Homo sapiens: one gene and its partner. The protein of the gene in region 2 interacts with the protein of the main gene of each other region in a pairwise test. Each region holds a gene or a part of one and is shown on either strand. Other genes may lie near its edges.

Evidence for each region.
Region 1: the proteins of FEZ1 (region 2) and MEST interact in a two-hybrid assay, tested with the Homo sapiens proteins (one large-scale study listed by BioGRID and IntAct).

What each region holds. Positions count from the first base shown.
Region 1 is NC_000007.14:130,501,864-130,504,551, reverse strand, and holds part of MEST (mesoderm-specific transcript homolog protein), read right to left. Parts: intron 1,909-2,688; coding exon 1,832-1,908; intron 620-1,831; coding exon 556-619; intron 1-555.
Region 2 is NC_000011.10:125,461,685-125,465,432, forward strand, and holds part of FEZ1 (fasciculation and elongation protein zeta-1), read right to left. Parts: intron 1,887-3,748; coding exon 1,800-1,886; intron 1-1,799. UniProt on the Homo sapiens protein: May be involved in axonal outgrowth as component of the network of molecules that regulate cellular morphology and axon guidance machinery.

The DNA.
Region 1 (2,688 bases), on a different chromosome or scaffold from region 2:
TTTATTTAAAATTATATGCAAGCTGTTTACTACTAGCTTGTATCCAGTAGGCCACAGGAAGGTATGGAACATTCTTATGTGACATAATCAAGATTTCATATTCTGATACCTTCCAAGTAAGTACCTAGAGAGAATAGCAACCAATGAGAAGGCACTTTTCCACAATGAGCTCTTCTCAATCTCTCCTTGCCATCTGCTCAGCCTAAACCAATGAATTGGCTTTACAATCAGACTAAAACAAACAAACACTTTGTAGGTATATCCACTTTCAACCTTTGACTCACATGAGAGCTTTTTGTACACCAAGGAATATGTAGCAGTCATGACAGTGAAAACAGACTATGTATAAATCAAGAGAACGTATAACTGAATGTCTTGATACTACAATTATGTTAGAATAAGATTCCTCAACTCAATCTTTTTATTGTTTCCTGGATGAACAGCCAGCGAGGTTAAAGACAATGGCTAGAGCCAATAGCCCTCAACAGGCAATTCTGTTTACCACTGTCAGGATGAGATACTAACAAAACATAGACTTCTCTCGGGGAGACTCACCTGTACAGCTCCAAAAACTCTGGATAGGGATTTACAGGATCCAATGGCCCATAGATAAAATGAACTAGAAAAGAGAAAAGGAATGAAATACTTAACAGCTCTCACATCTGTTCTACTCCCACCCTAAAATTAACTCCTCTCCGAAAAGAAATGTTTTCTTCTTCCTTTTTTTATTATAATAGGCAAGGTCTCTCTCTCCCTTGCTCAGGCTGGAGTGCAGTGGTGCAGTCATAGCTCACTGTAACCTCAAACTCGTTGGCCCAAGCGATCCTCCCACCTCAGTGTCCTCAGTAGCTGAGACTACATACAGGTGTGCAACACCACACTTGGCTAACTTTTAAATTATCTGTAGAGAAAAATTTTTCTCACTATGTTGCCCAGAGTGGTGCCAAACTCCTGGGCTCAACCAGTCCTCCCACCTCAGCCTCCCAAAAAGCTAGGATTACAGACGTGAGCATCCTCACCCAGCCCAAGAAAATATTTTCTATAAATAATTTTTTGTGTGATACAAAACCTAGCTTGTTTTATTAGGTAACCTCTAAAAAACTGCTAGGCACGTACCAGTTCATTCATTGGACACATCTCCTCCTACAGACAACCATTTGGTCCCTCATCCAGCTCTCCTGCACCCTGGACCAAATGGGATATGCCCAACTTTCAACATCCTCTAAGTCCAGGATACTATCATTCTTTAAGTCTCTCTTCAGTTATAACAGACCCTTGACATTTGAAATCAACCAATAATTTCCTGAGCACTAATCACTATGTGTGAAACACCATAATTTTTTTTTAAATCTGTAAGAATGAAAAGACAAATAAGCACAAACCACCTATAGCCTCTTGATTAGTAATCCAAACAGCCTTCTGTCCGAGCAATTCAGCATGTAATGTGGCAGTCACTGACAATGCACACCACAGAAATCAGTAATACCAACTACCTTTACAGTAATGTCTCAGCTTTTTATATACTTCACTCTACACACACACATCACTGTTCCAGATGTCATGAGTACAGTTGCCAGTAAAATAAAGGATACCCAGAAAATTTGAATTTCAGGTGAAAAATGATTTTTTTTTGGTGTAAGTAGGTCCCAAATATTGTACAACATATACTTAAATACTAAAAAAGCATTTGTTGTTTATCTAAAATTCAAATTTAACTGGGTATCTTATATTTTTATTTGCTAAATCTGGTAACCCTAATTGTATAAAGGAGTTGCGATTACTTTAACCCTATAGTCCTTCAGTTTCCTATCAATAATACAAAAATACTCACTGGGGATAGTTACAGAGGCAAGAGCTCCCACCCAGCGCCTTCTGAACTTCTTCCTCTGATTGATGTACTGTAAGAGACTGTAGGACAGGTAAGTCAGCATGTGCAGAACAAGAAACCTTTACTGTTACAGGGATTCAAGGGCATAACGAGCCACAAGGAACACAAGATACAATTTCTTAATCCAGAAGCAGTTTAGCATTCCTGGAAATGTCCCACTTAATTTATCCATTTCTGTTAACCTCTAGAGTTAACCACCATGTAGCTCTAGTAGTGATTATGCCTACTATCAATATAAGAATTAGTGGGTTTGTGTATTTATTAAGCAGGGAATGAGATCTAGGAAGGCTGACAGTTGGTTTGGATTTTATGTAACTAAAAAGCCCAGGTCTGAGGTTCCAATTTAGGCTCCACCACTACCTACCTCTCTGACTCAAACATATAACACAGATCTTTCAACTCGGTTTCCTCATTTGTTGGTTTGTTTTTTAAAAGACAGGGTCTCCCTATGTTACCTAGGCTGGAGTGCAGTGGCTAGTCACAGGTGCAATCATAGCTCACTACAGCTATAACTTCTGACCTCAAGAGATCCTCCCACCCCAGCCTCCCAAGTAGCTGGGAGTACAGGCATGTGCCAAAGGACCTGGCTAGCCTCCTCATTTTTAAAATAAGAGGATTGTAACACATGATCTTCTGTGTTGACATCTACTTCTTTTTTTTTTTCTTTTTTTTTTTTTGAGACGGAGTCTCACTCTGTGCCCAGGCTGAAGTGCAGTGGCATGATCTCAGTTCACTGCAACCTCCGCTTCCTGGGCTCAAGCAATTCTTGTGCCTCAGCCTCCTGAGTAGCTGGAATTACT
Region 2 (3,748 bases):
GGTCTTTAGATGAGTTTTGTCCCAACCTTCACCTTTGTCTGTTCTCCATGGATGGACTAAAGTCCCCGAGGCCAGCATTGTACTCTTTGAGGTGGTTTCTTCACAGTGGGCTGGACCAAAGGTAAGGGGTTTCAGGGTCTCCTCCTTTAGAATAATTTCCATTCTTATTCCCAAACCTTTTCACCTCTACTCACAAACTTAGGAAATACCCAGTCTTTGACTACTGAAAGCCATTTTACAGAATGCAACCAAATGACACAAGTCCCTGTCAGGGTCTTATGGCTGAATGTCCTTTTCTCTAAGAGGAGTTATAATTGAGTTCATATCATTGAATTGTAGATCCTCCTACAAGTCACAAGAATAGCTATTAGCCCCTATTTTTAAAAATCTGGTTCTCTTCAGTCTCCTAATCCTCACGTGTTTCAATTCCCACCTTTCTATCACAGATATGAAAAAGCACCATTGCTGCTAAAAAAGCACTTTCTGGCACCGAAGGCTGCCAGTGGAGCTTTGCAGAAAGACTTTGTGGAAACTTATGTAGTGTTTAGCTCAAAATAAGCACCCATAAATATTTGTTGACTAAAACATTAAATAAGGAATCCAGAAACTGAACATTATCCTCTCTAAGTAATAAATTATTAAAGCTATGATGATCTCAATTGAATGCGAAGCACTCTATCTTTTTTCACAAAGTCGAAGTGGCTCTAAGACTCCTTTCGGAAGGCCCAAAATTTTGAGTGTTCTATGAAATGTAAGAAAATATCCATCACACAAAAGCCTCATCTGTCACTTCTCTTTTTGGGAAAACAGGTATTTGGGACCCTTGTTTGAGTGTCTTGACTCCGAGTACAACGAATTTCAATAAGAAGGCTTAGCAGGATTGTAGCTACTAAACACTATGCCTGTCTCTGGCTCCTATCAGAGACTGACCCCAACTATCCCAAGTGTCAAGAATGACATTCATGTTCACTGCAGGTGGGCAACCTGAGGCAGAAAGAGAGATGAAATCCCTTATCAAAAATACTCTGAGTTGGACAGTCACCGTGGCTCATGCCTGTAATCCCAGCACTTTGGGAGGCCAAGGCGGGTGGACTGCTTGAGTCCAGGAGTTTGAGACCAGCCTGGGCAGCATGGTGAAACCTCATCTCCACTAAAAGTACAGAAAATTAGCTGGGCATAGTGATGCATGCCTGTAGTCCCAGCTACTTAGGGGCCTGAGGCGGGAGGATCGCTTGAGCCAAGGAGGTTGAGGCTATAGTGAACCCTGATTTTGCCACTGCACTCTGGCCTGGGTGACAAAGTGAGACCCTGTCTCAAAATGAAAAAAAAAAAAGGTCAGGCACAGTGGCTCATGCCTATAATCCCAGCACTTTGGGAGGTTGAGGTGGGCAGATCACTTGAGGTTAGGAGTTTGAGACCAGCCTGGCCAACATGGTGAAATCACATCTCTACCAAAAAATTTTTTATAAGAATTAGCCAGGCATGGTGGTGCATGCCTGTAGTCCCAGCTACTCGGGAGGCTGAGGCAGGAAAGTCACTTGAATCCGGGAGGCAGAGGTTGCAATGAGCCAAGATCACGCCACTGCACTCCAGCCTGGGCAACAGAGCAAGACTCTGTCTCAAAAGTATATATATATAAAGAAAAAAAAGAAACAAAAAATACTCTGAGTCATGAGCACAGGCACCACATGACCACATATCTTTCTTCTGCCTTAAATGGATGTGGCAAGTGTGTTCTCTTGGACTTTTTCTCCATCAAAAGAACAAAAGGTCCCGATAACCTGGAGAGATACTTATACCTGATCTGCTGTGAGCAGAGGCTCCTCGTTGATACCGGAATCATTTTCACTCTTCTCATTGAACTCTTCCTCTTCTTTCTCATGGATCTGGAGAGGAGGTGGGGAGATGGAATTCTGGGTGACCATCAGCAGAAGTGGGATTGCCTCTAGTCTCGAGAATGGATGATACTGACTGGGAGGCCACTCCAGCCAGCTGCTGTCTAAACAGTGGAGCTGAAGAGGTGTCCAGAGTTTCATCCAATTCCAAACATATCTTTGCCCCATCACTAACTCCAGCATGCCAGAAATCCAGCATGCAGCACTGAATCCAACTTGGCAGGAAAAGACGACAGGGGAATGGCCAGCACCATTCTGACTCAAAGGGGACAGCACCGTTTTTTAACCCACAGACAGGTCATCCTGGGGTGAACAAGGCGCCTTCTCCAGGTAAGTGACACTGCAGCCAACTGCAGCAAAGGTGCCCTGATTTTGTTAAGGAGTTCCAACCTGGGGGGTTGTTTCCAGATTTCGTCTTACTAGGCATTTTAAGGAATAGGTTGTTCTAGTCCAAATAATGATGACTTTCAGAATTTGATGAAATGCCATCCTGTTACTGGAATCCAGGCATGATGTCATAGCTGATGGCAGATGTAAGAAATCTGCATGGGACATGCCACTGAATAACCTGACCACATGAACTAAACAACAACAAAACTACAAAAGAGAACCCCATTTATCTCATTTGCCCTGTGTCTCTATAATTCCATAATCCCAAGTAAGATCCTCAAAGTTCACAGCCATCAAAATTCTAGATGTTTAAATCTAACAAGCTATTCAAAGCATATCTGGCTTAACTGACCATATCCCAAACTGCCATAGTCTGGCATTTACATTCAAGTCCCACAGAAAAGTTAATCACTAAACACCTAACAAGCTGTATGTCTAGAAGTCTGATTTGAACGTCATACAAGGAGGAGGCAGGAGGTGTCTCTAGGAAATCTCTCTGCTGAGTCACCTCTCATCCAGGAATGAATCCTCCTTGCGCTCCAGTAGCTGGCACACCGATTGGCCCCTTCCCTGGGGCTTGTATTCTGCCTTTTCTAACAGGAAACAGCCCAGCTCCAATCCAAGCAATAATGTCAGAGGTAGTCTATCCTCAGAAACTTCTCCCGTCTTCTGTGAGCTTTGCCTTGGCAGACATCCCTAACAGAGCACATCACCTTTTATCTCCATTTGCTTAAAACCAGGACTATGTCATTAAAAAAGAAAAAAAAAATTAAGCAAATATATCTCAAATGCCATCCGCACTCAACCTAGATATGGGGTAGGACAGGGAGGTAATGGAATCATCTGAAGGGCCCGGGTACCAGATGGTGACATCTATTTCCGCTGTCAAACCCATATGCTCCTCTCTCTGCCAAGTCCACCACCTGCGATAGCCTCGTGGTTTCCACCGCTCCCCACTATGCAGAACAAAACTCCTGGAGCTACGCTTTGTTCACAACTACACTCATATGGAAGAACTTTCTTCAGGCCAGAAAATCCTGCAGTAGAAGTTAGCCCAAAATTAAGAGAACGAAGATACATTTTTTCCTCCAGACAAAAATTAGGGGAGAAAAAGGAAGAAATGTATCAATATGAACCCAGCCCAAGTTAGTGTGAGCCCAAGTTAGGCTCATCCTGGGAAACAGGGTTATTTTTCATAAGCATCTAACAGCAACTGTTAGTCTATAACCAGGATTTGGCAGGGGGTAGGGGGTGGTGGGCACTAAGTCTATATAAAAATGGCATGTTTACCTTTTCTGAAATGTGGCTGATTGTAGTGGGTTTAACTCCCTGACTGTTAATATTGCTTCTTTCAACTATATCATCTCCTCCCTCCCCAAGTTCCTCACTCCTTGGGGAGTTCCAGGAAGAAGGCAGGGAGGAAGCTTCTAGGGATAGATCCTTCTTGCTGCTCAAATGCTAAT